Regions from separate parts of the Homo sapiens genome. Here region 2 is linked to region 1. The links come from fine-mapping of genetic effects on gene expression. A gene starts in region 1. The other region holds a variant in brackets. All regions are shown on one strand. Distances are between the middles of the regions.

Region 1 (5,376 bases):
ACACCACAGAACTGACTCTCAAAACCTTTAATAAAGTAATTCTAGAAAATCAAAGCAAAGAGAAAAAAGCTGAACTTCTTTTTTTGTTTTTCCGAGACCCGTCACCCAGGCTGGAGTGCAGAGTGGTGCAATCTTGGCTCACTGCAACCTCCACTTCCCAAGTTTATGCGATTCTCCTGCCTCAGCCTCCCGACTAGCTGGGACTACAGGCGTGCACCACCACACCGGGCTAATTTTTGTATTTTTAGTAGACACGGGGTTCCACCATGTTGGACAGGCTGGTCTCAAACTCCTGAACTCAGGTGATCTGCCCTCCTCGGCCTCCCAAAGTGCTGGGATTACACCGTACTTGGCCAAAACCTGAACCTCTATTAACCTGTGGGGTGGCATTTGTTCTAAGTGGGTAAGAAAGGCCATCTAGAATAAAGGAGAAAGAAGAGATCTGGAGTCAACTTCAAATTATAGCTTTGCTATTTAGAAGCTATTTGGACATATTACCTGACCTTTCTGCCTATCAGCATAATACAGGCAGTGAAATGACTGTTGGGAGAGCTTCACAAAGCAATGTACGAACAGCACTACTGCCAGCACATGGCCTCACAGAAAAGCTGAGCATTGTTTATACATCTTGCTTGTGGTACCCACCACATTCCACCTTTAAAGACAGGTGACTGAACGTGTACGTATCTAGTCCCACTTCTAGACTGTAAACTCCTCGGCAGCAGAGCTTTACAGGCATTATAGCATAGTGGTCAACAGCATAGATATAAGAATTCAACCCCAGCTCCAAGTCTTGTTATCTTGGGCGAGGTACTGAACTAAATGTGTCTTCATCAGTAAAATGGAAATAACATCACATATTAACACGTATTCCACGGGACTGTTGAAGATCACTCAAGAAAACACAGCTGAGGCTATGAGTACTTTCCTAGCCCACCGTAAGTGCCTGATAAATGGTAGTGATTATCTTTTCATGTCTTGTGTCCCTTATACCTGCTAACGCAATCTAGCTAATACCTACAGCTTTGAAGGTTTATGAAGCTGAGACACTGCCCCACCCACAGAAATCCAGAAATATCAGTATCAAGATGCCAAGGAGAAGGGTCCCCTACCTCTGGAAAATCTCTTGCAGCGTATCCCGGGTGAAGGCATTGCTGTCCTGGAAGACGTTATTGAGGGCGTGGAGGGCACAAAGCTCCCTGCGCTGTTTCTCATGGTAGATTTGTGGGGGTGCTGCCTGGGGCAGCTCCAATGATTCAGATTTGGCCTTGTCTCCTTTCCATGGCACACAACTCATGTTTTTTGTTTTAGGTTCCAGAGATGGCTATAAACACCCCACTCTTCCCTCTAGAGGAAGAATGTAAGCTTCTCAGTCTTTTCCGGATTCCTGAGGTCCACCTTATTCTCTGGTGTCCATGATTTATGCTTTGTCACTGGGAGAAAAGATTGGAATCAAAAGGAAAAAAATAAAACCCACCTCTTCTCTCTTCTCAATAGAAAAATAACTTTTGGATTACTTTTATTTTGCTACCACTGTCAAAGTGCAGAATTTAAAAAAACACATAAAATGTAAGACCTTGTTTCCGTTTCCCCACCCTTCCCTCCCACCCCCCTCCAAAATCCCCACGATTTTCTTGCTGTTTCCCTCTGCAAATGCCAGGCCTCAAAGCAGGAGGACCGAACACAATCGGTCACATCGCTCCTTTTCTTCCATTTCTTTTGAACCACGACGCCAATGACTCGGGAGACAAGGCCTGGGTGACGGATAAATTTAGCGCACGAGTCGAGTAGCTAGCGCGGGCCGGCAGGCGTGGGACCGCGAGCCGCGCGGGGGCCTCGGGGGCAGCCCTCCATCCCCTCGGGTACGGTGGGGCCCGCAGGGCGCGGCTCCCTCGGAAGGCGCGGATTCTAGCCCTCTGGCCGCGGCCCTGCGGAGGAGGAGACAACTCCGGTCAGCGGCGAGCGGGCGCGGGAAGTGAGCGGCGGGGCCGGCCCCTGCCCGAGGGAAGGTTCCGCGCGGCGAAGGGCTGGCCCGCGAGGGGTGGGGCCGGACAGTCAGCCTCGCGCTCCCGGGCCCGCGCCCACCCGGCTCGCAGCCCCTACACAAACCTCCCCGCCCGTCACGTGAGCGCAGGCCCAGACGCCCTCCCGCCGCGCCCCCGGCCGCAGACCCCAGGGCCGCCGGGACTGCTCGCCGCTGGCGGTCCCCTCACCGCAGCCGGCCGCCACCTGGAGTGCGCGCCGCCAACTGGGCCGTGCGGGCGGGCGCGCGCACCTGAGCCCGACGTCAGCGGCCCCCGCCCGGCGCGTGCTCCGGAAACGCCCTCCCGCGCCGTCCTCACTCCTCCCAGCCGTGGCGTCACGCCTGACGTAAGTCTGACGTCATCGGCACCGGCCTGGGAGCCGCAGACGCCGGGCGTGTAGGGGCGCAGTTCAACGGTTGGGGTGTTGCAAAGGCCGTGGGTGTGGGGCTGCGGGCTGCGCACCTCGGCGGCGGCCGGCAGGGTTGGGGTCCAGCCGCTCCGCTCGGCGCGGCCCCTGGCGGGGCGGCCTGAGGGAGTCCTACCTGGACGCCAGCCTGCCCTTCTCCCGGGCGTGGGCGTTGTTTCGGGGCGGCAGCCAGGCCAGCGGCTGCAGTCCGCGGCTTTCAGCACCCCTCCCTTCTCTGTGCCGGGCTTTTCGGCCGAACGTTCTCGCTCCTTCTGCGTTGACTGTTTTATGTGTGGTTAACGCGCGGCTCACCAGGGGGGATTTTGAAGCACCTGATTCGGTCGGGCGCAAATTGCCTTGGTTAGTGGGCCCGACCGTGCCGCACTGTCCAGGGAGCGTCAAGGGTAGGTGTCTCGCTGGGAGTCACATTTCAAGTGGAAAGGAGAATCCTGTTGCAGTTCCTTGGTGTCGCATTTCGGTTCACTACACACAAGCCACTGCCTTCTTGCCTGGGGGCTCCCCGCTCTTCTCACGGTGGCTTTCCTCTCTGCAGAGACCTCTGCGCGAGGTATACCTAAGCGCATTGTGTGCGTCTTCGGGAAAAGGCGAAAACTACTCGCAGTCCCACGTGGATTTCATTTTTTCCCCTTTACCTACTCTTAGGGTGCGTGGTAGGCATCATTATCCACCTTAGCTGCCCTTCTTTTGGGTTTTCTGTAAAACTGGAAAAACGAGAAGAAACTGTTGCACTTCAAATTTAGTTGTTTTGTTTTGTTTTTTGGAGACGGAGTTTCGCTCTTGTTGCCCAGACTGGAGTGCAATGGCATGATCTCCGCTCACCGCAACGTCCGCCTCCCGGGTTCAAGCAATTCTCCTGCCTCAGCCTCCCGAGTAGCTGGGATTGCAGGCATGCGCCACCACGCCCGGCTAATTTTGTGTGTTTAGTAGAGGGGTTTCTTCATGTTGGTCAGGCTGGTCTCGAACTCCCGACCTCAGGTGATCCACCCGCCTTGGCCTCCCAAGGTGTTGGGATTACAGAAGTGAGCCACCGTGCCCGGCCTTTTTTTTTTTTTTTTTTTTTAAGATGGAGTTTAACTTTTGTCGCCCAGGCTGAATTGCAACGGGGCGATCTCGGCTTACTGCAACCTTCACCTCCTGGACTCAAGCGATTCTCATGTCTCAGCCTCCCGCGTAGCTGGGATTACAGGCTCCTGCCACTACGCACGGCTAATTTTTGTATTTTTAGTAGAGACGGGGTTTCACCATGTTGGCCAGGCTGGTCTCGAACTCCTGAGATCCACCCGCCTCGGCCTCCCAAAGTGCTGGGATTACAAGCGTGAGCCACCGCGCCCGGCCTGAAGTTTTATTATTTTTGAGACAGGGTCTTGCTCTCTTTCCCAGGCTGGAGTGCAGTGGCGCGTTCACGGCTAACCCACAGCCTCTGGGCTCAAGCGATCTTCCTGCCTCAGCCTCCTGAGTAGCTGGGACTACAGGCATGCATCACCACACCTGGCTAATTTTTATTTTTATTTTTGTAGAGGTGGGGTTTCATCACGTTGCCCAAACTGGTCTCGAACTCTTTCCTGGGCTCAGGTGATCTGCCCATCTTGGCCTCCCAAAGTGTTAGGATTACAGGTGTAAGCCACTGCACCTGGCAAACGTGACTATTTTAACACCATTACCCTCAACGTTATGATTTAACACGCTGGAGTGCCTGCCTCAGGGTGAGGAGCCCTCTGGCTCTGTCCAGCCAACTTTTGAATTAAATTTTTGTGGCCGGGCGTGGTGGCTCACGCCTGTAATCCCAGCACTTTCGGAGGCCGAGGCGGGCGGATCATGAGGTCAGGAGATTGAGACCATCCTGGCTAATACGGTGAAACCCCATCTCTACTAAAAAATACAAAAAAAAAAAAAAAAAAAAAAATAGCCAGGCGTGGTCGCGGTCGCCTGTAGTCCCAGCTACTCGGGAGGCTGAGGCAGGAGAATGGCGTGAACCTGGGAGGCGGAGCTTGCAGTGAGCCGAGATCGTGCTACTGCACTCCAGCCTGGGCAACAGAGACTCCATCTCAAAAAAAAAAAAAAAAAAAAAAAGTAATTTGTAAGCTACCCACGGCTATGGTTATATTTACATATGAATAGTTTGAGGGATTGCTCTGCAGCAAGCAGTGTTCTAAGTGCTTTACATATATTAGTTCATTTACAGCTGATTTTATCCTATTAGATACTTTATTTCTTTAAAGGAGAAAACAAGCTCTAAGAAGTTAACTTGCTTAAAAGGTCACATACATATGATATGTGAACCCAGTACATAGTGAATACAGAATTTGAACCTAGGCTCCAACTTTTCTTCGGAAAGACGTGTAGATGGGTAGGGTAAGGAATTCCTTCTATAAAATGTCATGATAGAGTTCCCTGTTCAATTCAAAAGTACCTGCTCTGAGAGTTCTTTTCTGGGTAAAGGCTATAGTGCAAAGGGTATTTTTTTAGTTCGCTATTAGCTGTCAGCACATTCTGGACTTGAACTCTTTTTTTTTTTTTTTTTTTTTTTTGAGATGGGGTTTCGCTCTTGTTGCCCCGGCTGGAGTGCAATGACTCGATCTTGGCTCACTGTAACCTCTGCCTCCCGAGTTCGAGCGATTCTTGTGCCTCAGCCTCCTGAGTAGTTGGGATTACAGGCATGCACCACCACACCCAGCTAGTTTTGTATTTGTAGTAGAGACGGGGTTTCTCCATGTTGGTCAGGCTGGTCTCGAACTCCCGACCTCAGGTGATCTGCCCACCTTAGCCTCCCAAAATGCTGGGATTACAGGCGTGAGCCACCGCATCCGGCCGACTTGAACTCTTTGGAAGAGCCAGTTGGTGAGATGCTATCAATCTGGGCCATAAAGGAAAAGCCAAAATCTGTTTTTTAAAATGTTCTACTCTCAATACAACACAACACCTCTG
Region 2 (5,376 bases), 220 kb before region 1:
TTCCAGAACTTATTACAAGCCCCAAGGCAACCACCAGCTTGGTGTGATGGACAAAAAGCCTAGTGGGGTCAAAATCTATAAACCTGGAGATGAGTCAACCAAGACCAGTTCACATAGGGCAGGGGTGTCCAACCTTTTGGCTGCCCTGGCCCACACTGAAGAATTGTCGTGGGCCACACATAAAATACACTGATAGCTTATGAGCAAAAACAAACAAAAAGACACTTCATATGTTTTAAGAAAGTTTACAAATTCGTGTTGGGCCACAAAGCCATCCTGAGCCGCGGGTTGGACAAGCTTGACCTAGCGCCTCGTAGGCCAGGGTAAGGGGCTTGCACTACATTCTGATTGCCAAGGGCAGGTATTGGGTCATTAAAAAACCCAATCCACTAGCTGCTATGTAGGGTAGAAAGCAGTCCAAGTACAGTGACTAGCTATGGGGCAGTTGCAGTTGATCAGGAAAAAGGCTCTAGGTAGAAAGACATGTGGACACAAGTTCTAGGACTTGAGAAGGACTGCTGATTTGATTGTATGAGATGTACAATAGACAATTTGAGGCCAATCGCTAAGTTTACAGCTGGGGGGAAGGGTGCCAGTAACCAAGTCGGGGATCAGTAGGTCCATAGTCAACCGGAGATGGACTCCCCCTTTGCTTTAACAATCGAACATATACTGTGAGCCGGCCATTAAGAGATGATACCAAGATTATGCATCAAGTTATAAAGCAGTCCTTTCATCAGATGGTAAATTCTTATTTCATCTCCATTTTCTTCCAGTCCTTAAGGGAAAGAAGTTAAGTCTTCCAATGCCAATCTGAGGACCTTCAGAGACAGTCTACGCCTTAACAAGCACATGAAGGAAACTATTTTGAATGTTCTCTTTGGCAACTTATCCATAATTTGGGATCAAATGTTAAAACCAGAAAAGTGTTTAGTGTGGATTTCAGCAAAACCTGATCATCCCACCCAGAAGACCTTCTCATCAATAGATCGCCCTTAAAGACCCATTGTAAGGTCATAAAAAACCTCGGCCACCTGCACAAAGATGGTGCCTCACTGCAACAAGAAACCTTAAGGTGTCTTACCGACGAAATAAAAAACATAAATGATTGTTCTCCAAGGCCTGAGGGCAAGACTCATGATGAGCAAGTCAACCCCAATCTGGAACAATGTCCCTCCTCTTAGAATGTCCCAACTAAAGACCAGTTAAAATATTAGGGTACGTTCTTGTGAATTTCCACTTTCCAGGTAGATGACCAAATTTAGGTGGTCAAGATATAAAGGTGTCAGCTAGTTTTAAGTGTGAAACTTATTTCACTTTCACACTGCCTTCAGGCCAGAAGCAAACCAAATTTACCAGGTTTGGCTGGAGGAGTTTTGTGACTCATCTTTTACTGGTTTGAATTTTTTCAAACCAGTGGCTGATACCTGCCTTGTACTTAGTACCTTAATACCAATAACCTAATGGTACTTAGGCGAGTACCATTTGCACAATCACTGTTTTACTTATGAGCAGATACAGATATATCCAAACCCTTACCTACTAGGTATCCTGCTAGGGTTTTCAATTCCAATTCTTGTATTAAGTTTTTTCCTTTCAGTTTTAGGTGCGAAAGTAATCAGTCAATCCAATATCCCCCATCTTTGTCTTGAAACAAAAACTGTTTTAAGACGTCTACGTTGAATTATTCAGAGAATTAAGCAATAAAAGCTCACACCTTATTGTCAACAGTGTTTTTATTTATACCTACAAAAAGAAAACAAGATGATGGTATCAAAAGGACAATTTACAAACTAAGAATAGTAACATAGCTTTCAGCATCCTGTGCCTGAACATCACACATCTACAAGTCTTTCAAGTCTTAATGCAACAGGAATGTGTCTGGAGACCAGCAAGAACATCAATAGAGAGCACTGATCCCAAGCAAAAGCCACTAACCTTTTAGATGAGAAGTCCACACAACGAATTGTTAGGGAGGATTGGGGAGAAGCAGCCCATTGCTTAATACATTGGAACCCTTTCCCTAAGTTGAGTTTCAACCATGAATGCAATAACTAGCATAAAACGATTCTTCTGCTCATGTTCTGAAGCCAACAGCAGAACCTGAATTATAAGTGACAGACATGGAGGCAGAAGAGTTAAACTCTGCTAGATTTCAGCTGTGCTCAGGCCATAATAGTTTTTGAGGTTTGGAATTTACTGTTATTTTATGATT[A/G]CAATGTCCCAGGTGGAAAAAGGGAAGCAAGCAATCCAAATAACCACTTGCTTGCCCAGAGACCTTTCCCTCAAACAGATGCTTTCAAGAGCTGCGAGAGAGTAGGGCATCCCTTGTGGTGGTACCTCTATGTTTAAAGAAAGAAGAAAAAAACCCAGAATTTGGTTGTAGAAAACAATGCCCACAACAGACTGGCCAGTGCTTAGACAAATTTGGGGTTGGGGGGAACACTTTGGTTTGAAAGCACAGAGCAGTTTGCCATGTTTCTTCTGTGCCTACCATTCTCCCTTGGCCTCAACTTCTGTAAGATGGGGGGGGGACAAAAAGAGAAGTAAAGTTAAGAAGAAAGTGGAAAATTAAAAAAAAAGATGTCAAAGTTTTTACATGCATATATTTCAGCTTATGCTGAAGACCTACCTGTATGTTGCACATTGAATCATACTTTCAGAACCCCTCAGAAACCATCCCTCTCTCCCTAAAGAATTTTAAAAGGAAAACAAAACCTCGAGTATAGATCTTACAGATGAGCAAGCATTCAGGCCTTAGCCAAAGAATGCAGTGGAGCCTTCCCCCTTCAACTGCATTGTGAATGAATACCAATTAACAGCATAAAAATTAATAGTCCCATATCAGATCTGGAAGGGGTTTCTGGGGCTGTCTGATGTCCCTATCCTGTTGTAGTGAACACAATAGCAGAAAATTCTTTCTGGGTCCATCTGCTATAAAGTCTTGGTAAAACAGCATTACCATGAAGAGGATGAACTCACCTACCTTCAGATGGAGGAAAAGTGAAAAGGACTTAGGCTTTAGTCCTCCATGACTTTTCTTAAGCACTACCTACCTGTAATAAGCTGAGTGCAAAAGGATGCCGAAGAAAATCTGCACCCAGAAGCTGTTAGAAAGCACTGCAGAGAACAGGGTATGAAGAAAATAAAGAGTTCTTAATAAACCCTTAAGATTCTTTGTTCAAGGTAACTTTGCCAAAAGGGCAGAGTAGGTGGCAAAGAGTTGCTTTTAATCTAGCTCTACACTGCATTTGAAAATAAAATTTGCCCATTTTGAATATATTGTTTATAATTAAATGTGCTTTTTACACTGCAGGTCAATATAAAAACTGGTTAGTAAATTTCCAGCGAGCATTTATGTTCATTTGCTCACAGCAGCTGTCTGGATGGAAAATTAATTTCACAGATGGTCCCCAGTTAAACTGGGAAGAAATATAGGCAGCTTCCACCCAGATGCTGAGATGCTACAGTTTAACCACTACAATAAACACTTGTGGTTTTTAATTTAAAGGATACACAAAACTCAGCAATTCAATTTCTAGCCTGACACTAAAATGGTTATTTTTCAGTAACGGGGGGAGAAGTGGGGAGGCAGAGTGTGAAGGGAAATAAAACCAATTAGTAATTTTTAACTATCAAATGCACTCCAGCAATCAGTCAAAACAGGCCCGAGGAAACCTGTTCCAACTTAAGAAACATTTAAAAGCACAAAAGAAAATGTGCAGGGCAATCCCTCTTTGTTTTCTAACCCAGTAATGAGAAATTTAAAGCACAGATGCCATCTTCCTCTGCAAAACAATTCAGCCCTCCCCCTCCCTCCCTCCCCACCAACTCAGAAAAACAAAACATGGGGCTCCCACAAAAGGGCCTAATACCTTACTCTTTTAGATGAAAAATAGCTCAAATATCTTCAACATGCAAGAAGTTGGGGGAAGAAATTAATCTCTTCCAGTCAGCTATATATATATATATATATTTTTTTTTTTTTTACAAAATGTTATTCCAGACTGGATCATTTTGGTGGGCAGAAGAAACCTGGCAGTGAATTCTAACTAATCTGCATGAAAAGACAAATCACGATGGTTGGGGGGAAAAATTAAAAAAAAAAAAAGAAAAAAGGAAAAAAAAAGAAAAGGCGAAGAGGAAAAAAAAAGGAAAGACAGTGTTCCTTAAAATGTAATTAAGTCTGCTGGAGTCACTACCACTTGAGTGGTTTCATTTACGTGAAGGAGGAGGAGGGGGAGGAGGAGGAGGGTATTGGTAGGCAGTCTGCCCCATGTAACCTATCATATTGGTAGCTCCCGGAGGCTGTGCAAACTGTTGTGACATCAGTGGCTGTGGCTGCTGCCCAGACCGGCCTATCCCACTAAACTGCTGGCTAGAGCTCTGTGAACTTCTCCCAGTTGAGGTGGTGCTACTAGCTCCATAAGTGCCAGCACCATATTCTTGAGCTGTATAGCTACTGGTGCCATAAGCAGCTGCCCCATAGGTGCCTTGACCATAGGTGTATTGGCCTGCTTGTGCTCCAAAGGCAGAATTTGGACTTCCATAGCCACTGCCATTAGCATAACCAGCTCTATCGGTTTCACTACGATCCCGATAGCTTGCAGAGTCTCTCCGGCCACCATCCTTGACTCCTCGAAGCCTTCGGTCACACTCATCCTGATACATCAGATTGGGATTGTTGGCTGAAGAAGTGGTCCGGTAACGAGAACGACCACCTAATGGGAAGATACAAGAAGATTTTTAATGGCAGATATAGGACCTAAACATAACAATGTAAAAATTCTACTGGGTACAAAAGTATTAAACATGTCTCCTTGATATTTAGTTATGCTGGCCAGCCTCCCAATTAGTACTGTAAAAATATACTCATAATTTGATTCTTTAATGGGGCACATTCAAAAGCACAGTAAAAATTAAAGGACACTAGACCTTTTCACCCTTTTAGGCCCCTTACTTGAGGATGATCAAGAAACACGGTATTACAATATGAAACCTTGAGTCAGGAAGCCCAGATCCTAGGATATTCTGCAACTGTAGATGCAACTGCTATGTCTCAGTTTCTACCCACCACTAAACAGTGTAAAATGACTGACCTCTCCGTATGGAAAACTGGAAACCTAATATACTACTAAGCATTTTTGAAAGTATTAAAAAAGCAACCATGACCGGGGGCACACTGGCTCACTCTCGTAATCCCAGCACTTTGGGAGATCAAGGCAGGAGGGTCACTTGAGGTCAGCAGTTCAAGACCAGCCAACATGGTGAAACCCTGTCTCTACAAAAAATACAAAAATTAGCTGGACATGGTGGCACATACCTGTAGTACCAGCTACTTGGGAGGCTGAAGCAGGAGAATCACTTGAACCCAGG

What was found. PIP is the estimated chance that this variant, and not a neighbour inherited with it, causes the effect.
Region 2: its variant is the best candidate, but not a certain one, in a credible set for the expression of JOSD1 in nasal epithelium (TOPMed, PIP 0.58).

What each region holds. Positions count from the first base shown.
Region 1 is chr22:38,698,691-38,704,066 of GRCh38, forward strand. JOSD1 (Josephin domain containing 1) reads right to left here and starts at 2,253. Exons shown (of 5, transcript NM_001360236.2): 1 at 2,110-2,253; 2 at 1,113-1,928. The coding sequence starts at 1,297. RefSeq lists a silencer at 1,760-2,719.
Region 2 is chr22:38,481,720-38,487,095 of GRCh38, forward strand. KDELR3 (KDEL endoplasmic reticulum protein retention receptor 3) reads left to right here. Exons shown (of 5, transcript NM_006855.4): 5 at 777-1,728. The coding sequence ends at 817. DDX17 (DEAD-box helicase 17) reads right to left here. Exons shown (of 13, transcript NM_006386.5): 13 at 1,719-4,721. The coding sequence ends at 4,216. Among named protein-coding and RNA genes, the nearest start is that of KDELR3, 16 kb to the left of the region's middle. The variant A/G (reference allele first, on the strand shown) is at 2,216.